4 separate regions of the Homo sapiens genome follow, and regions 2, 3 and 4 are each linked to region 1. Evidence: fine-mapped QTL for protein levels in blood plasma. A gene starts in region 1. Each other region holds a variant in brackets. All regions are shown on one strand. Distances are from middle to middle.

The links. PIP is the chance, under the fine-mapping model, that this variant and not a neighbour inherited with it causes the effect. The UK Biobank Pharma Proteomics Project read protein levels with antibody pairs (Olink). The fine-mapping took linkage between variants from a reference panel, not from the people measured, so its PIPs are less certain.
Region 2: its variant is fine-mapped to the plasma level of the WFIKKN1 protein (UK Biobank, PIP above 0.99).
Region 3: its variant is fine-mapped to the plasma level of the WFIKKN1 protein (UK Biobank, PIP above 0.99).
Region 4: its variant is fine-mapped to the plasma level of the WFIKKN1 protein (UK Biobank, PIP 0.97).

What each region holds. Positions count from the first base shown.
Region 1 is chr16:630,502-633,177 of GRCh38, reverse strand. It overlaps WFIKKN1 (WAP, follistatin/kazal, immunoglobulin, kunitz and netrin domain containing 1), which reads right to left and starts at 2,193. Exons shown (of 2, transcript NM_053284.3): 1 at 1,754-2,193; 2 at 1-596. The coding sequence starts at 1,924. RefSeq lists an enhancer at 2,100-2,676.
Region 2 is chr16:698,629-701,307 of GRCh38, reverse strand. The region is part of intron 1 of FBXL16 (F-box and leucine rich repeat protein 16); the gene reads left to right. Among named protein-coding and RNA genes, the nearest start is that of FBXL16, 5.8 kb to the left of the region's middle. RefSeq lists a silencer at 430-529 and an enhancer at 422-1,251. The variant G/A (reference allele first, on the strand shown) is at 1,129.
Region 3 is chr16:614,294-616,972 of GRCh38, reverse strand. All of the region lies in intron 1 of RAB40C (RAB40C, member RAS oncogene family), which reads right to left. LOC124903618 (a long non-coding RNA gene) reads left to right here and starts at 709. Exons shown (of 2, transcript XR_007064934.1): 1 at 709-2,679. The variant G/A (reference allele first, on the strand shown) is at 1,241.
Region 4 is chr16:688,835-691,499 of GRCh38, reverse strand. WDR24 (WD repeat domain 24) reads left to right here and starts at 1,102. Exons shown (of 9, transcript NM_032259.4): 1 at 1,102-2,340. The coding sequence starts at 1,860. RefSeq lists an enhancer at 674-1,221. The variant C/G (reference allele first, on the strand shown) is at 201.

The DNA.
Region 1 (2,676 bases):
TCGGGCCGCGCGTTGTAGAGCACCAGCTGCCCGATGCTGGTGACCACCACGTTGCCATACATCTGATCAGGGCGCATGATCAGGTTCTCTCGCTGGTGACTCTGCTTCTCCCAGGTCACAGCAGGCGGCGGGCGGCCGCTGACGTCGCAGTGGAGGCTGGCCGTACCCCCAACCTGCACCGCCTGTGGGGAGGGGCTGCTGTACAGGGCAGGAGGCACGGGCGCGGCCCCAGGTGTGGGGCGGGCAGTGGTCTCCGGCGGCCCCGGGCTGCTGGGCGGCCAGCTGAGCACGTGCTTGCAGGGCACGATGTGGAGGTGCAGGCCCCGCAGGCAGGCCTCGGCGTCCATATAGCAGCGGTTGTAGTAGGTGAGGCCGTCCGAGGCGCAGGTGAAGCTGGGCTCCTTCTCACAGCGGTCGCGGCAGCGGCACACGGGCTGCCCGTCCCAGATGTCGCAGTCCGAGCCCTGCTGTGGGCACACAAAGCCCTCGCAGGAGGCCGCTGTCGTCGGCGCAGCTGGGCTGCCGGGGAAGCGTGCTGCCACGCAGCTGTGCAGTCCACACACGTTGATGCAGCACTTCTCAGCAGCCGCACAGTCCTGGGGATGGGGGACACTTAGGTGGGAGCCCCAATGCCCCCCGCCCCGGGGCTCTGGCCTGGCCCCTGCAAGGGGAGGCCCAGGTGGGGTAGCAGGGAGCCCCCCGCTCTGTGGCTGCCTCCCCGGGGACTCAGTGTCCTTTCCATCCTGTGTGAGGAGCCACCTCGCCAGAGGTGCCACCTGGCTTACCTTCCAGAATCCTCACACCCACAAGCAAGTTCCGTTATTCTTTACGTTGTACAGACGAGGAAACTGAGGCCCAAGGAGGGCGTACAGTGCTCAGGACCACCCAGCAGGTGGTGCGGGCCAGGACAAAGGCTGGACATCGGCTGCAGCACCCCCACCACCATCTGCACTGGTCCCGGATGGAAGGAGGGTGGGAGGACAGGGAGGACAGTGGATGGAAGGAGAGGGTGGGAGGAGAGGATGGAAGGAGAGGGTGGGAGGAGAGGATGGAAGGAGAGGCAGTGACGGGGTGGGAGAAGAGGATGGAAGAAGTGGATGGGAGGAGTGGATGGGAGGAGTGGATGGGAGGAGAGGGTGGGAGGAGAGGCAGTGAAGGGGTGGGAGAAGTGGATGGGAGGAGAGGATGGAAGGAGAGGCAATGACGGGGTGAGAGAAGAGGATGGAAAAAGTGGATGGGAGGAGTGGATAGGAGAGGATGGAAGGAGAGGCAGTGATGGGGTGGGAGAAGAGGATGGAAGAAGTGGATGGGAGGAGTGGATAGGAGAGGATGGAAGGAGAGGCAGTGACGGGGTGGGAGAAGAGGATGGAAGAAGTGGATGGGAGGAGTGGATGGGAGGAGAGGGTGGGAGGAGAGGATGGAAGGAGAGGCAGTGAAGGGGTGGGAGAAGTGGATGGGAGGAGAGGGTGGGAGGAGAGGGTGGGAGGAGAGGCAGTGACGGGGTGGGGGTGGTCGCCGAGGATGATGGTGCCCCAGGGTGGAGGCACATGGGGAGCATGAAAGCTGGAGTGGGGAGGGCTCTTATTCTTAAGACAAATGAGGGCAACGATGGGGGTGTCTCTGGGCCCCTTAAGGGGCCCAGACCCAGACCCCCCAGAAGTCTGGGGAGCCCAGGCAGAAGGTGGCACCTCCAGCAGGGTCTTGCCCAGGCTGGCTGCTCTGAGCCCCAGGACCCCGGCCCGACCACACTCACCTGGTCCCTGCTACACTCGCGCTCACAGGTGCTCTGGGCGTCCACCCACAGGTTGGGGCTGAGCTGGTTGGGGCACACGCCCGGGTGGCTCCCCAGCCCTGGCAGCAAGCCAGCCCCCGAGGTCAGCCGGAGGAGGAGCAGGAGCGGCAGGAGTGGACGTAGGGCGGGCATGAGGGCCGCCGAGCCAGGGGGCCGGGGGGTGTGGCCACCAGCCCCTCCTCGGGCTCCACAGAGCCCAGCTTCCTGCAGGCATCCACCCTCCGGGCCTGTGGTCGGTGCCCCCACCAGGACCCCGGGGCTCCCTTTTGCCCCTGAGGCTGAAGCCTGCAGCAGATGCTTGTCCTGACACCCCTGCTGGGTGGGTAACGGGGTCTCCAAGTTCTCAGAGGCCGTCTGTGTGACGCTGGTTCCTCTCCAGCTTCAGCCTGGCCCCTCTGTCTGAACCGTGCGGGGGCTCCCAGGCCCTGGTCAGCACAGGGCAGAGGGGAGGAGGTTGGGGAGGGGCCAGAGGCCCATGAGCACAGAGCCACTGGCCATGAGGGTCACCGGGGCGGGGAAGGGCTGGCTCTGGCTGGAGAGGGGGAGGGGAGGGGACCCTGTAACCTGAACCCCTTCGTCCACCCCTGGGCTGAGATCAATCTCCTTGACGACCCTCAGTAGGGTGGGGGCAGGGCCAGCAGATCCCAGCTTTTGTCCCTGGCGCCCTCTGGACCCCAGGCTCCTATGCCATGGGGGTGGCAGGCACGGGCCCTCCCCGCAGAGCGTGGCTGACCACAGCCTGGGTCCCCCGGGCCAGGTCCAGGCTGGCAACGGTCACGTGCGGCCGAGGGCTTCACTCCGCTCCGAGGTTCCTTCCCCCCTCCATGGCTGTTTCAGGGGCACAGGGGTCTGCAGGACGCCCAGCACAGCCCGGCCTCCTCTGC
Region 2 (2,679 bases), 68 kb before region 1:
CTGACCACAGGCAGAGCAGCGCCTTCTGGCAGCGCTGCGGGTGTGGATGAGGGAAGCCAGGCCCCGGACCCATACCCAGACGGCCGCTCCTCAGCCTGTCCCCTCCCTCCTGTGGGCTCTCAAAGTGCGGCTTGGTTTCTCCATCTCGACCCTGAGGCCTGGAGGTGGGGACGGGACTGTGGGCGCCGGCAAACGTGAGCTCCCGAGCGGGGCGGGAAAGGAGCCCCGCGAATGCCTCCCCCAGCCCCGGCGCTCCACGTGCAGGCCCATGACTGGGAGCGTTTTCAACCTAAATCGGCACTGCGCCGGGATTATTCCTCCCCTGGCGCCGCCCCCGCCGCCTCCTCCGGATCCTTCCCGGCTTCTCCCCCACTCTTCGCCCCCGGGGCCCCTCCCTGCTGAGCGGGGGCTGCCGGGATTTGGGATTGCGGGGCTGCCCCGACCCCGCAGCCGTCCGCGGTGGAAGCCAGCCCGGGCCTGGCCCTGAGCGCGCGGCTGGGGCGGCCGCTGTCCATGGTGCTGGCGCGGGTGGCGCGCCGGCCGGCGGGGTCTGCGGAGGCCCAGGCGTCCCTGGCGGGGAAGGCGGCGCTTCCGGGTCTGGGGAGCGAGGGTCCCCGCTCTAGGGGCACGGAGGATATTTAGACTGGGGCGCCCGTGGGCCTGGTGCTGCCGCCTCGGGCGCCGGCATCCTGCGATATCCCCTCTCCCCGGCTCTGGGAGGGAACCGAGGCAGCCCCGCGCCAGGCCTCCCCGGACACCTGGGGCAAATTCGCTCCTCAGAGCCTCGTGTTCCTTCCCCAAACCTGAGGTAGCGACCCCTCCACCCCTAAGGGCGGCCGTGAGGTCGAATCATGTGCCGACCCCAGCCGGCCCTTGCAAACGTTGTGATGTCGGCCTCCGGAGGCCGCGCCTTCTGATCATGGGCACATGATGGGGGTCACCGGCTGTGGGTGCCTCCTCTGTGGAGGGCCCGGCCTCACCTTCCAGGACCCGAATGATACTCTGGGGAGGGGGAGATGGTACAGAGGGTGGAGCTGGGGCTCCTGCCATTAGGGCAGGAAGGACTTTAAACCCAAAGCTGGGTTCTCAGCCACGAGGGCCACGTGTTCTGGCGAGACCCCTGGTCCC[G/A]GCTCCGGTCTACACCCCCTCCCCAGATGTGGACCGGTGGCAAGGCTGGCCCTGTCTGGGGCTTGGAAGCCAGTGTGGGGACCTGCTGCTGGGAAGAGCGGGGCAGGACCTCCCACTGCCTCCCTGCCTCCCTGCCTCCCCTCCCCCCTGACCAGATTATGGGGAATGGGCTGCGGGCCTTGGGGTTGCAGTGCCGTCCGAGACCCCGCCACTCTCTGTGGTGGAGCAGGCCAGGCCCTGTAGCCCCAGAAGGGACACTCAGCCAAAAAGATGTGAGCCATCCTCTTCCTGAGAGTCTGCATATTGCAGGGCCCACCCCAAGCGTTGGAATCTTCGTGGGAGACTCTCAGACACCCCCTTGGTGGCTCCAAGAGACCTTCCAGTGAGGCTGTGGCAGGAGGGGGCAGGGTGGGCTGGGAGAGGCTTTGGCCCCTCCTCTGAGATTTTGGGGCAGGAAGGCAGGACCTGCATGAGGCTCCAGGCTTAGTCCTGGAGTCACCTAAGACCGGGGAAGATGCATCTTGCTTTGCCCTGGAGTGTGGCCGTGGGGCTCAGACATCACTCTCCCAGACCTTGCTATGAGCCACGCACTGAGCTCGTTCACTTTGCAATGCCCCAAGGGAGCAGGTACCGTCACCTCCCCAGGCTTCAAGGTGAGGAAATTGAGGCTCAGAGAAGGGAAGTGGCTTGCCAAGACCACAGAGCCAGGGTGGGGCCCATTTCAAGTCCAGGGCGTGTGACCCCAGGGGCTCTACCTCCTCCCCGGATGTCGGGGTGGGGGCGGCAGGAGATCCGAACTGTGGAGCAGATGGTGGCACAGTGAGGGTCCCACCTCTGCTTCTTTCCGTGGCTGTGCCCAGTGCCCCCTGCCACCCACTTACAGACTGGAGGCCTGAGGAGGGTGCCCGGGACTGCTCCCACTCCACCCTGTGCGTGGATGTCGCTGGCCTGAAGATAACCTCCGCATGGCCTTCCTCAGCCAGCTCTGCCCGAACTTTGGCTTCACCACTTATCTGGCCATGACCTCGGGCAGGCAGTTTGCCCAGCCTTGGCCTCAGTTTCCTCATCTGTGCAGTGGGTACAGCTATCACAGCATCGTTCTCATTGGGCAGAAGATTAAAGCGACAGCTTGTGTCCAGGGCTAACCATGCTGGCACCACAGCACACCCTGGGAAGATGCCCGCCCTTTCTTTGCATGGATTCTTTTTTCTTTTTCTTTTCTTTTTTTCTTTTTCTTTCTTTCTTTCTTTTTTTTTTTTTTTTTTTGAGACAAAGTCTCACTCTGTTCCCCAGGCTGGAGTACAGTGGTGTGATCTCGGCTCGCTGCAACCTCCGCCTCCTGGATTCAAGTGATTCTCCTGCCTCAGCCTCCCAAGTAGCTGGGATTACAGGAGCCTGCCACCAAGCCCGGCTAATTTTTGTATTTTTAGTAGAGAAGGGGTTTCACCATGTTGGCCAGGTGGTCTCAAACCCCTGACCTTGTAATCCACCCACCTCAGCCTCCCAAAGTGCTAGAATTACAGGCATCAGCCACTGCACCCAGCCCCTTGG
Region 3 (2,679 bases), 16 kb after region 1:
TGGTCCATACAGTGTCAGGCCATCGGGCCCCACAGCCTAGCAGGCCAGCCTCTCCATGGGCACGGCTTGCCTGGAATGGGGCCTCCGCCTGTGGCCCGCGCTGGGTGCAAGGCACAGGGCCTCTCCCTCAGAGGGCATTGGGCAAAGGCAGGGCGTGGACTCCAGCGTGCCTGGAGAAAGGGCAGTGCCTTTATTTCCACCCTGACCTACTTCGTATGCATTTTGAAGTTGAATTCTCCAAGGCGAATGTATTTCCAAGTCTCGGCTTACTGCAGCCCAGGAACTGCCAAGGTTGGTGTTAGGGAGGGCCAAACAAGTTTAAAAATGCTGCTTCTGGCCGGGCGCGGTGGCTCACGCCTGTAATCCCAGCACTTTGGGAGGCCGAGGCGGGCGGATCATGAGGTCGGGAGTTTGAGAGCAGCCTGACCAACACAGTGAAACCCCGTCTCTACTAAAAATACAAAAAATTAGCCAGGTGTGGTGGTGGGCACCTTTAATCCCAGCTACTCGGGAGGCTGAGGCAGGAGAATCACTTGAAGCTGGGAGGTGGAGGTTGCAGTGAGCCGAGATCATGTCACTGCACTCCTGCCTGGGTGACAGTACTCAATAAATAAATAAATAAATAAATAAATAAATAAAATGCTGCTTCTCCGGACTCTGGACTGACCTCAGACAGCCACCAGCCTGCCTGCCACATTGGTATTTTTTTTTTTTTTTGAGACAGAGTCTTGCTCAGTCACCCAGGCTGGAGTGCAGTGGTGCGATCTCTGCTCACTGCAAGCTCCGTCTCCCGGGTTCACGCCATTATCTAGCCTCAGCCTGCTGAGTAGCTGAACTACAGGCGCCCGCCACCATGCCCGGATAATTTTTTGTATTTTTAGTAGAGGTGGGGTTTCACCGTGTTAGCCAGGATGGTCTCGATCTCCTGACCTCATGATCCACCCGCCTCAGCCTCCCAAAGTGCTAGGATTACAGGCGTGAGCCACTGCACCCGGCCTTTTTTTCTTTTTTGAGATGGAGTCTCACTCTGTCGCCCAGGCTGCAGTGCAGTGCCACAATCTCGGGTCACTACAACCTCCACCTCCCGGGTTCAAGCGATTCTCCTGCCTCAGCCTCCCAAGTAGCTGGGATTACAGGTGCCCACCACCACAGCCGGCTAATTTTTATAATTTTAGTAGAGACGGGGTTTTGCCACGTTGGCTAAGCTGGTCACAAATTCCTGACCTCAGGTGATTCGCCC[G/A]CCTTGGCCTCCCAAAGTGCTGGGATTACAGGTGTGAGCCACCGTGCCCGGCCCACATCACATCATTACTTTTTATTTCCTTACAGTTTTATAGGAAAAGGTCAGTCCAAGAGAAACTGAAAGGAGCAGACAGTTCTGGACACTTAACGCAGGCACGACATCTTAAACAGGCTCTGGGCCCTCTGGAAACTTTCCAGAAGCTTCTACCTTTAGGGCTCAGCCCCTTCCCCCACCTTAGAAACACCATTCACGTTTTGTCTTTTTATGACACTTTCTCCAAGGGGCTTGGAAACGGGCACTTTTTAAACATAAGCGACGCCCTCCCACGGAGTGCACCTGCCCAGTGGGCTTGTGTGTGTGTCTGTGCACATCTGTCTCTCCGTGCGGGCCCAGCCCTGCAAGCCAGCCATGCGGTCTCTCTGCCTACGGTGCCCTTCTTCAGGCATCAGCGCTTCCACCCACACCGTCCTTCTGCCTGACCAACCCCTACATGTACATCAAAGGCTGTTCTCATGCATCGAAGGACACCATCAATGGACAGAAAAATGCAACCCAGAGATGGAGGGAAATGTCTGCAGATCACACGTCTCCTAGAGACTGATCTCTAGACTCTACAAATAACTCCAACTCAACAACAGAAAACCAAACGTCCCAATTTTAGGATGGACGGATGGTCTCCCTCGGGTCCTCGTTTCCAAGACAAGAAGGAACAATGGTTGTGCCAAAAGGGCCACGGCTGTGAGCAGCCCATGACTGCAGGAGCTGCACCCAATGTGTACCCAGGGACAACGCCATTAAGCAGTTCATCAGGATGCGGTAGAGTTAGGCAGTTCACTATCGGGACGAGGTAAAGTTTGGCAGTTCACCATCGGGATGCGGCTGAGTTAGCAGTTCACCACTGGGACGAGGTAGAGTTTGGCAGTTCACCGTCGGGACGAGGTAGAGTTTGGCAGTTCACCGTCGGGATGCGGCAGAGTTAGCAGTTCACCATCAGGATGTGGTAGAGTTAGGCAGTTCACCATTGGGACGAGGTAGAGTTAGGCAGTTCACCATCGGGACGAGGTAAAGTTTGGCAGTTCACCATCGGGATACGGCAGAGTTAGCAGTTCACCATCGGGATGTGGTAGAGTTAGGCAGTTCACCATCGGGATGCGGTAGAGTTAGGCAGTTCACCATCGGGACGAGGTTTAGGCAGTTCACCATCGGGACGAGGTAAAGTTTGGCAGTTCACCATCGGGATGCGGCAGAGTTAGCAGTTCACCATCGGGATGTGGTAGAGTTAGGCAGTTCACCATCGGGATGCGGTAGAGTTAGGCAGTTCACCATCGGGACGAGGTTTAGGCAGTTCACCATCGGGACGAGGTAAAGTTTGGCAGTTCACCATCGGGATGCGGCAGAGTTAGCAGTTCACCATCGGGATGTGGCAGAGTTAGCAGTTC
Region 4 (2,665 bases), 58 kb before region 1:
AGAACGAGAGCAACTGGTTGAACAGGTGTGTCAGGCACTGGGCATTCGGTGGGGATTGAGCCAGAATGTGATTCCTGCCTTGGTGGAATTCACACTCGTATGTGACCGACAACAACCAGTAAACAAACGAATGGGTGGTGACAAGTGCCGTGGAGGCCACAGTGATGGAGAAGCCCATTAGGGCAGTGGTCAGGGAGGTC[C/G]GCTCTGTGGAGGAGGCATCGCACGCACGTACAATGTCCCTGAGGCAGGAAAGGGCTTGGTGGGCTGGGAATGGGGGTGGAGGCTGCCATGGCTGGAGGTGGGCAGGGGAAGGCGGAGGCCAGGAGTTGGGGTTCATTCACAGCATAGTGGGAGCTGCCAGAGGCCTCAGGCAGAAGACCTGGTGCCTGACTTCTGTGCGGGTTTCTGATCAAAGGGGAAAGACGGACCCAGGAAAGCCGTTGGGAGGCTGCTCCCGAGGTCGAGGAGTGAGGAAGGAGGGGAAGACTGGGGGCACTCGGAACTTGTCTAGGGATGACCAGATGTCATGATGGACCTGGGGATTAAAATAGGTGATGGCATTAAAATACTGAAATTGAGACTTAAAAAACAGGCCAGGCGCGGTGGCTCACACCTGCATTCCCAGCACTTCAGGAGGCTGACGCCAGAGGATCGCTTGAGTTCAGTAGTTTTAAGACCAGCCTGGCCAACACGGTGAAACCCCGTGTCTACCAAAAATACAAAATTAGCCAAATTAGCCGGGCGTGGTGGCGGGCGCCTGTAGTGCCAGCTACTTGGGAGGCTGAGGCGGGAGAATCGCTTGAACCTGGGAGGTGGAGGTTGCAATGAGCCAAGGTCGCGCCACTGTACTCCAGCCTGGGCGACAGAGCGAGACTCCGTTTAAATAAATAAATAAATAAACCAATCACACAAGCACAGCACCGCAGCGCAATGGCAACGCCCAGGGCGGCCCGCAGACCCCAATCCCGGGCCCCTCCTGGCCTCTGCCAACGCAGCTCCCTGACCCGGAACTTTCGTGGTGTCGGGCGAGAGTTTGTGCCCACTTCCTGAGAGGGATGGGTAAGAAGAGGACCACTTCCGGCGAGGGACGGGAAAGACAGCGGCTTCCGGCGCGGCGGTTCCGGACAACCGTGCGCTTTTAGTAAAAGATTGGGGTTCGCGCGGGGGAGAAGGGCTGCCCCGGGCCCTCTGGTTCTCGTCCCGCAGCGTCCGCTCCCCCGCGCCACTGCGCCGCTCCCAGGAACCCTGTACTCCGGGGTCGCCGGCTTCTCTCCTGCCTCCGGTCCCGCCAGACACCTCGAGCTCCTTAAGTAGCTCGGTCCTTGACGTCCCTCTGGGCCCTTCCCGCGTCTATCGCCTGAGTCCCCGGGCCCCTCTAGCCCTCTGTTCCCTCCCCTCTTTTGTTCCTCCCTAGAGCCCCGCCGCCCTCAGGGCTGACAGTGTGGACGGCGGGAGTCTCCTCGCTCCCCTGCTGGGATTGACTGACCGAGCGTTTAGTGACTGCCCAGATCTGGCTGATGGGGGTACCGAGAGGTGGCCTGGGCCGGGAATGTCCAGCTAGAGTCTTCCGTGGAAGTCAGACATGAAACTGACAGGCCTAAGGGAAGCTAGGAAGTCCCCTCACCGCTCAGCCAGGGTGATGGGCTGGACTGACAGACTCCAGTGAATTTGAGCTTGCCTGTCAGGCTGATTGGCTGATAGACAGCCCTGGATTGGCTCACTAAGACTGACCAGCCCGGGACCAAGCAGTTCTGGGGTCCCAACCTGGGTGGAAGGTCTGAACTGATGACCCACCCAGGCTGACCAGGCCAGCCCACCTCACTGACCTCCTGACCCCTGACCTCATCACCTGTGCAGCCATGGAGAAGATGTCCCGTGTGACCACAGCCCTGGGTGGCAGCGTGCTGACAGGCCGCACCATGCACTGCCACCTGGATGCTCCCGCCAATGCCATCAGTGTGTGCCGCGACGCAGCCCAGGTGGTCGTGGCAGGCCGTAGCATCTTCAAGATCTATGCCATCGAGGAGGAACAGTTCGTGGAAAAGCTGAACCTGCGTGTGGGGCGCAAGCCTTCGCTTAACCTGAGCTGTGCTGACGTGGTCTGGCACCAGATGGATGAGAACCTGCTGGCCACAGCAGCCACCAATGGCGTGGTGGTCACGTGGAACCTGGGCCGGCCATCCCGCAACAAGCAGGACCAGCTGTTCACAGAACACAAGCGCACGGTAAACAAAGTCTGCTTCCACCCCACCGAAGCCCACGTGCTGCTCAGTGGCTCCCAGGATGGCTTCATGAAGTGCTTTGACCTCCGCAGAAAGGACTCTGTCAGCACCTTCTCGGGTGAGGCCACAGAGGCAGGTCAGGGCAGGTGGGCGTCTCTGCCGGTGCCCAGCCTGTCCATGCAGGCGGAAAAGGGCTCCGTGCATCAGAGGCCCTCAGGATCACTCCCAGAGGGCTTCCTCAGGGGGAAAGGGAATCGGCAGGGGAGGGATGGGGCAAGTTGGGCTGGACGGCATGTGAGCCAGGGCAGTCAAGTGGGAAGAGGCAAGAGATGAGACCAGCAGAAATTGAGGCTAGGTGTGGGGTGAGGGAGGGCAGAGCCCCAGCGGTCTCCCAGCCAGCCTGGGTGGTGAGCAGAGAGCCACTGACTCCCTTCCCTCATGTC